Linked DNA regions of Homo sapiens: region 2 is linked to region 1. Evidence: fine-mapped expression QTL. A gene starts in region 1. The other region holds a variant in brackets. All regions are shown on one strand. Distances are from middle to middle. Region 1 holds the start of HTATIP2 (HIV-1 Tat interactive protein 2). Region 2 overlaps NAV2 (neuron navigator 2).

Region 1 (4,390 bases):
CATAGTCATAAGACATAATTTTTGATTATATAGTGTGTGTACATAAAATGAAGGGGCTCATGAAGTGCTTAGGGCCCATAGAAATCATAATGCAGGCCTACAAACAAGAATAAATACTAAAATATGTGTTAAGCCAAAAACCTGGGACACAAAAGAGTACATGCTGTACTCTTAAATAGAATTCTACAACAGGCAAAACTAATCTATGTTGATAGTGACCAGAAAGTGATTACCTCTGGAGTGGGGAGAGATTGCAAGAAGGGAATGAAGGCACTTTCAGGGATGGCAGACATGCTCTATATCTTGTTTTTGGTGGTGGTTATTTAGGTGTATATACAATCTCCTAAAATCATGGAACAGAACCTTTAGGTTCTGTACATTTTATTGTATATTAATTATGCCACAATTTTAAACAAAGGGGAAGAATAGACAGGGTACAATGAATAATTTCTGTGACAGATTTGATAAATGAATTACTAGGACAGTGTTTGCTGACAAGGTTTAACATTGCATTCTTGTAGAAAACCTTTAGGAACTCAAAGGGAAGAGTCCAGGCACTGTGACAGGCCAGTGGGGAATGAACCACACTGCTCTATATTAATCAAGCTTTTTTATTGCAAACAACAGAATATATCTGGTAAGCTTATACAGCACAGGAATTTATCAGAAGAATAACAGGAAGTACTGTATTCACAACAGTCTCTGAAAACAGGCAGGAATTTAAGACAAGATCAGACCATCAGATGGCTGGTGGATCATATGATGCCATAATCCTATACCCTTGCCCCAACCAACCCACATATATCTCAGGCCTTCACTGCATCTTTTCATTACTCCTCCAAAACTGAAAACCTATGCGTGAGCCTCTGGCTTGCTGAGCCTAGGCAAAGCCTACATATAATAACTCCCATGGAGATGGAAGAGGCAATGTGTTTCATTGGCTTCTAGATGGGAGGTGGGGCCCCCAAATGACCAATGTTCCCAACAAAACCTGAACAATCTGAAATTATTCAGATTTCTGCTTGTCATTCTAACCTCTGTTCAGGACTTCCAAGATCCAGGACAGGCCCAGTGTAGATACCTGTGTCCCAAACCACTGATCTGGGCTAGGAAGACTGAATCACAGGTGTGGAAGGTCACCCGGGTTCAACCATCTAGGTGATGAATTAGGCCAGGACCTGGGCAGGTAGACCATTTATTCTGGGGAGATATGATGCGAGCTTGAATTACATGGGAGAAATATTTGTAAGGCAGATGGGATAACAGGACTTGATAAGTCTGTAGTGTGGAAAGGCTAGAAAAGAAAGGAATCAAAGGAATCCTGATTTCTGACTTGACAGGGTAGAAGGAGGTGTGTGTGTGTGTGCGTGTGTGTGTGTATGTTTATGTAGGGACAGTGACACCCAAGAGAGGCTAGGAATAGGTTTGTTTTATTCCTGTTTGGGGTGGTTGGGTAGGCAGGGTTAAGTTTTTGACTTGGTGAATTTGAGATGATGGCCAATATACAATTGACATTCCAGCTGGGGGGACCATTGAAGATCAAGTCTGGCAAGTCTACTAGCTGGCGCCTGGGTGAGCTGAGCCCAGCAGGTGAGGGAAAACGCGGGAAGAGGGTCTTGCAGATTCCAAACTTAGGAAGGGTCGCGGCTCCGCGCACGTGCTCTCGGGGTCACCTTCCCCGCGCCTGTGAGGGTGCCAGGAGTTCGTCTCCAGGTCCCGCCCCTGTGGGCGGGGCGAGGCAGCGTCGCCGCGAGGCCACCCGGAAGACCAAGCCGGGTAGGCGCTGTCTCCGTCGCCTCCAACCCCCCCGGTCCGACCAGGGAAGGTGGGATGCTCTGATGGCCGGGCCTGCGGCGCTGAGCGCGGCGGCGGCGGCTGCTCTGGCGGCCGCCCTGCTCCTGCTGCGTCGTGAGGACCCGGGGCCGGGGGCTGGCCCCAGGTAACCCCTCCGCGTATGGGACCGAGCTGGGCCAGGTCTCCTGGCCGGGCCGGGGATACCGTGGGGTATGCCCAGTGATGCCAGCAGCTTGTGGCACCTGGGCGCACCCTCCAGCTCGGGCCCCTTCCGATGGGTCTGCTGGCTCAGGTGCGGGCGATGGCCGGGGAGCCGCGCCCCGCACGTGACTCAGCACTTTCCCCAGAGCCCGGACTGCGGAGAACAATATCCTCCTCCCTAACAGATAAACAGCCCTTGTTCCTCGGGATAAGGACTGGCAGTCCCCTGACACCCTAAGACCGGCATCTGTCGATGTTATTTCCCCAGCATGGCCGAAACAGAAGCCCTGTCGAAGCTTCGGGAAGACTTCAGGATGCAGAATAAATCCGTCTTTATTTTGGGCGCCAGCGGAGAAACCGGCAGAGTGCTCTTAAAGGAAATCCTGGAGCAGGGCCTGTTTTCCAAAGTCACGCTCATTGGCCGGAGGAAGCTCACCTTCGACGAGGAAGCTTATAAAAATGTGGTGGGTATTTCAGCTGGGACTCAAATGGACCCCCAGGATTCTGCGAGGTGAACATATTTCATGCCTAAAGGCTGAATACTGCCCTGCCAGTGGTGGGGGTAGTGAGAGGCCATCAAAACTTGGCCAAGATTGGTCTGTGAGAGTCCCTCCCAGAAGTCTGACTCCTGGATTGTAGCCCAGGTGTGCCTCCCTCCCGCTCATTGTGTGGTCTTGGGCAAAGCCCTTCTCTCCATCTGCAACCCTATAAAGCTGGGTCTGGGTTGTAATGGGGGTGGGGGCTGGTGAGACAGAAGAGCACTGTTTTCAGGGTCATACAAGCTGTATTCTAGAGGCAGCCCTGGTGACCTTGAGAATTTTCTCAGCCACTTTGCTGATTTTGTCAACCTGCGCACTTCACACTAATATTGTCAGGGATTCTGAAACTGCTTTGCAGAGTGAGATAGGTCTATGGCAGTGAAAGGTGGGATTATTCACTTACAAGAATTTGCCCTGCCTGACTTCCCAGGCTTGTGTCTGTAAATCGGATATTCCCTTCACTCTAAGTTAAAGGTTTTTTTTTTTTTTTTTCTGAGACGGAGTCTCACTCTGTCCCCCAGGCTGGAGTGCAGTGGCACGATCTCGGCTCAGTGCAACCTCTGCCTTTCAGGTTCAAGCGATTCTTCTGCCTCAGCCTCCCGAGTAACTGGAACTACAGGCGTGCGTCACCACTCCTGGCTAACTTTTGTATTTTTAGTAGAGACGAGACAAGGTTTCACCATGTTGGCCAGGCTGGTCTCGAACTCTTGACCTCAGATGATGCTCCCGCTTCAGCCTCCCAAAGTGCTGCGATTACAGGCGTGAGCCACCGCGCCCAGCCTAAGTTACACTTTTATGATTATAGGAATGATATACCAGACTTCTGTCTTGTCATGACCCCCTAAATATCAGAAGCCTGAGTTTCTTGGAGATTCTGTTCTTTATTTAAAGGGAATTATCTGTGAACTGCAACAAATTAACATAGTGTGATCTCAAGACACCACAGCTACAGAATTTGGCCCCACAGGTTTCATAGAAAGAACATTTCAAATAACAAGCCATCTTGCAAATAAATGTTCTTGATTCTCGCAGGTCTGTGTTCAGGTCATGGTGTGAATGCCTTTGGTCCATCAAGTCTTGTTTATTTAAAACAGACATCTTTCCTCAGGCTGAGGCAGATGTGTTCTCACCGGTTTCATGGGCTGTGTCAGATATTCATGGTAATTAGAAGCTGAAACTGAAGGCTGGGCGTGGTGGCTCATGCCTGTAATCCCAGAGCTTTGGGAGTCCGAGGCAGGGGATCTCTTGAGGTCAAGAGTTCCAGACCAGCCTGGCCAACATGGTGAAACCCTGTCTCTACTAAAAATACAGAAATTAGCTGGGCGTGGTGGTGCACGCCTGTAATCTCAGCTACTCAGGAGGCGGAGGTGCGAGAATCACTTGAACCCAGGAGATGGAGGTTGCAGTGAGCAGAAATTGTGCCACTGCACTCCAGCCTGGGTGACAGAGCGAGACTCTGTCTCAAAAAAAAAAAAAAAAAAAGAAAAGAAACAAATTGAAATCTGTGTTTTGAGTGTCGAGTTTTGGTGGCACATCTGTTTGACTAGGTACTTTGTGAAACCCTATTTTTCTTTTTCTTTTCTTTTCTTTTCTTTTTTTTTTTTTTTTTTTTGAGATGGAGTCTCACTCTGTCGCCCAGTCTGGAGTGCAGTGGTGCGATCTCAGCTCACTGCAAGCTCCGCTTCCTGGGTTCACGCCATTCTCCTGCCTCAGCCTCCCGAGTAGCTGCAACTACAGGTGCCTACCACCACAACCGGCTAATTTTTTTTTTGCATTTTTAGTAGAGACGGGGTTTCACCATGTTAGCCAGGATGGTCTCGATCTCCTGACCTCGTGATCCACCCACCTCAGCCTCC
Region 2 (4,390 bases), 520 kb before region 1:
GTACAGGATGTGAGTCCAGGAAAATGTGAAAACTTCTGCCACAGTCATTCTATTCTGTAGGAAATGAATAGGATGATGAGAAGGACAATAGGATCATTGTTCTTGCCCCTACATCACAAAACAATGACAAGTTCATAAGGCAGAACTCACTAGATCACACAGGAAGTTCTTTCGATAGACAGGCATGGATGATTTTCTGGCTAATAGGACACCTGTGTGCACACAAGCATATATAGAGTTAAAGCACTTTTGCTCATGGGAAGTATAATTTGAGAAGATGGCATAGGGTGTGAGCCACCATTTCTAGATTGCTAGGTGGTTAACCTCCCAATTAGACTTTATCTGGGTGGCCAATAATAAACATTTGTTGTTCGCTAAATATTGCCTGTTTGGAGGATACCAAAGGAGAAGATATGTAGAAAGCATGGCAGAAGGAAGATGACACACAATGAGATGAGAACTTGGGAAGTGTATCCTGTTAGGAGGGTAATGGGCTCTGCTAGGAAAAAAAAATAATCAGCATAGAGTTAATGCGGTCACTCCCTAAGAAAACAGATAGAGCACCTTTAGGGCCCTTTAATAATAGAGACAAAAGGAGTTTTATTTCAGAGCAGGAATGGAGTGGGTGCTATTCCAGTTTTCAGTGGGTCAGTTTGTATCCTCAGCTCAAGAGTAGGTTAGGAGCATGAGCTTTGTAGGAGGAGCAAGCCCTGGAAGAAGGCACCTTTTCCTCCCTCCCTTCACTCTTCCTAACCCACTAGGCTGCCCAGCTGCTCTGTTCTCTGCTGTAACTCCTGCTGTCTTCCCAGAGGATAGGGAAGTAAAAGCAGACATTTGTGGAATATGACCTAGAGGATTCCAGGGGCAGCAGTGCATAATCATAATGGGCTTGGCATTGTGTACTTTTAGACTGTCAATCAGCAAGCAGTCACAGAGTGCCTACTAATGTGAGATGCTGGACTAGGCCAAGCTGAATACACAGGTGACCAAGATGTGATCCCTGCCCTCAAAGAACTCAGATAAGTGGGCAAGAGACCAGAGAACAATTAGAAGAATAGACTATTGCAGCTGCTCCCACAGACACCTGTGCATGGCACTGTGGAGACCCATTCTACCCCCAGGGCAAGGAAGGTTCCTAAATAACTTCTAAAGGGTGAGTCTTGAAAGGTCAGAGAGTTCACCACAAGAGATGATGGGTGGAAGAGGATTCCAAGTGGAGACAGCCAGGCATGGAACCCATTTCTGGAGAATGGGTTTACTTGAGGAAATCATGGATCCCACAGAGGAAGGTTTTACAAACAATCATCCATTGATTGTACCAAATTGCCATGAACTGTGTCTGGTGAGGCTCTTCTAGCCTCTGGGCAGCATCAACTCCTTGTCCTGTTGTACCTGGGGTGAAAGGAGGGGCATGGAAGAGCCCACAGTACAACAGACTCATAGGCACAGAGGTCTTTTCAGACCTGGGACAAGCCTTGTGCATGCTTCATCACACAGATTCCTGCATATGGGGGAGAAACCTCAGAACAAAGTTTTCTAAAGGAAAAAATTCGAGGTCATCAATTCCTGTGGACAGAAGTTCAGCCATGAAATTTGGGAAATGGAAACACAACCCGGTTGGAAACGGCTGTTAATATTTTTATATTAGCACTAATACGCATCTACACAGTGCTTTAAGGCTTATGAGCCCATCACACATTCAGTCCTCCTGACTCTGCTGTGGGCTGGCATAACACTCACACCTTTTGGGTGAGAAACGGAGATGCTCTCCCCAGGACTCAAGCCTGATGCTTTTCCATCAGCATTTGTAACCCTCAGTGCCGCCCTCCTCTTGGCCCTGGTAAAATGGCACCAGGTCTGTAACCCAAAGGCAGAGAGGCACAGCAGTGGCTTCCCTTTCCTGGAGCAAGCCCAGCCTTGGCTTGTTTTTAAGGAGCGCTTTGCCCTGTTTCAGTCTGACCCAGATGCTTTTGGGGCCAAATCCTTGGAGATGGAGCTTTAGAAACAACACTCCCACCCCATTCCCTCTCCCCCACCAAATTCATCCCCTTGGCCCTTAAATAAGTTTGCGTGTGTGCGTCAGAGCTGGTTAAAATGTTTTGTCTATTTAACATTGCCATGGCAACCAAGGGGCATCTCTTTGGCTTTCAAGTGGTGTGTTCAGCAGAGTTATCTGTTAGTGTGGAAGGAAAAACATTGCTTGGAGGTTAGCCAGTGGGTGCTGGGGCGGCCCTGCTTCCCAATTTGAACTCACTGTACTCAGGACA[T/C]TGGGGGCATTGGCTCACTTTGGAGCCTGGGAATAGCCAGTGGCAGGGGGTGGTTTTCTTTTTTCATCATTATTATTTTAAGCAGCTTGGCTGTCTGTTGTTGATTAGGAGAAGTGCAAAGTTAGGGAGGCTTGCTTGCCTTTTCAGCAAAAAAGCCCCAGGCCTGCTTTCCCCTTTAGCTGATCTTGGACCTGGGGTCAGCTGAGCCTCCCAGCGCTGAGCCCCTGCTTCCTCCTGGGCTCTTCAAGGAGTCCTCCTGCCTTCTTCCCTCAGTGCATCTAGACGGAGGGCCAGCCTGAGCTTGGGGACCAGCCAGGCCAGGTTTCTAATTCCTTTTCTGCTATTCTGCAGCCTTGAGCTAATTACTTGACTCTTTGAAGCCTCATATTTCCTGTTCTATGAAGTGGGGTTGATAATAATACATACCTCATAAAGATTTCATGAAGACTAATGAGGCAATGAAAATGATAATAATGGATAATATTAATTAAAGTGATAAAATATAACCAAAGCTTACAGTGTTTGTCTTGTGCCAAGCACCATTCTAAGTGCTTTACAAATACAGCATGTCCCCTTAGTTCATCCTCCCAACAGCCCTTTGATGCGGGTGATCTTATTATCCCTATTCTCCTGGCATATAATCAGCACTCAGTATATGGCAGTTACTACGATAATGAAGATTTCTTTCAGTGATCATTCATGTTTTGGGGGACATAGAACCTTTTGGAAATCTGAGAACCCTTCAGAAATCTTCTAGCTCTCTCCTCCCCAAATTGCACTTATCCCAGAATTTTGCATACAACCTGAGCAGATCATGAACCCCAGAGGCCAGCTCATGTATGCCCTGGGGCTCCATAGACTCCAGGTTTGGTGCCCCTGCTGCATAGAGCACAGCCCTTCTTCTCACCCTGTCCTTTCAGGGAGCTCTATGGAAAATGCCAGCACTGGAGTTCCTAAGACAGTAGGAATCTGCACTTAGGCACAGAGAAGGGCCAGGCAGTGATTTTCTAACTTCTATTCCATAAGCAGAACCCCTCATTTTCCCAAATAAAAGCTGTGGAACCCCATATATGAGTGATAAAAGCTGCTATAAGTAGGGGTAGGTAGCCCAGGACAGGGCCACCATAGCTGCCCCTTGCAGGAGGCCAGCACCTGGGGAGATGCAGCGGGATGTAGCCTAGGAAGGAACATGGCAGTGTCAGGTTTCAGCTCTGCTCTTGGCTCCAGCCCTCCTTTCTCTGGTCCTCCTCAGTCTCTTTTCTGTGAAGTCGGATTAGGTCTTACCTCTGACCTCTGCAAGGCATCACAGCTGAGAGCAAGGGCTGGGAAGGCCAACTGCTTGTAACCCAGGTGTGTCCCTTAGTCTCTAAGGGAGCCAGTTCCTATAACAGAGGTAGTAACAGTATTTGCCTCATGGGGTTGTTTTAAGGCTTCCATGAGACAATCTACATGAAGTGCTGGCACGTTGCTGGCCACAGAGTTGCTGGCCTCAGTAGATGTTAGCTCTTTTGATGATTTTTCAAGGGACTTAAGTATTTGTTAAAAAACAGACATGCCTCGGGAACAGCCAACTCTGCTTTTGGGTGGGGGCTTGTTTAGTGGGGTTTGAATTCATTTGTATGCCTACATCTCTCTGAATGATAGCACTGGACTCAAAGGAAACCCCTGAGAGATCTCATGTCACAGAACACTGTGGTCAGTCTCGCTCAGTCCCATCATAAGTGGCCCTGGATAATCCACTTGGCCTTAGCACTTCACTTCCTTCTGTGAGAAATGTGGAAGAGAACAACACCTCGCAGGGTTACCATGAGATTTTAATGAGCTAACATTTATTGATCACTCACTATGCACCAGACTATGTGCTGAGAGCCTACTCAATCACTCAAAACAGCCCTATGATAAAGATGCAGTTATTGTCTATATTTTGTACATGGGGACTGAGGATTTAAAAGGGTGCTCGTGGTCCCAGATTCTTTACCTAGGGAGAGGCAGAGTTGGAGCTCGAACCCAAGTCTATTTTCAGAGATATGGTGTTTACCTCTGTGACAGAGAAGGGGTATCATAAAAATAGTCTCCACCTCACCAAGCCGTGTTCTCCTTAGTTTTCATCTGCAGCTACAGCA

Evidence for each region. PIP is the estimated chance that this variant, and not a neighbour inherited with it, causes the effect.
Region 2: its variant is the best candidate, but not a certain one, in a credible set for the expression of HTATIP2 in uterus (GTEx, PIP 0.74).

What each region holds. Positions count from the first base shown.
Region 1 is chr11:20,361,974-20,366,363 of GRCh38, forward strand. HTATIP2 (HIV-1 Tat interactive protein 2) reads left to right here and starts at 1,741. Exons shown (of 5, transcript NM_001098522.2): 1 at 1,741-2,459. The coding sequence starts at 2,265. RefSeq lists silencers at 1,742-2,161, 1,948-2,090.
Region 2 is chr11:19,844,946-19,849,335 of GRCh38, forward strand. All of the region lies in intron 3 of NAV2 (neuron navigator 2), which reads left to right. Among named protein-coding and RNA genes, the nearest start is that of MIR4694, 87 kb to the left of the region's middle. The variant T/C (reference allele first, on the strand shown) is at 2,268.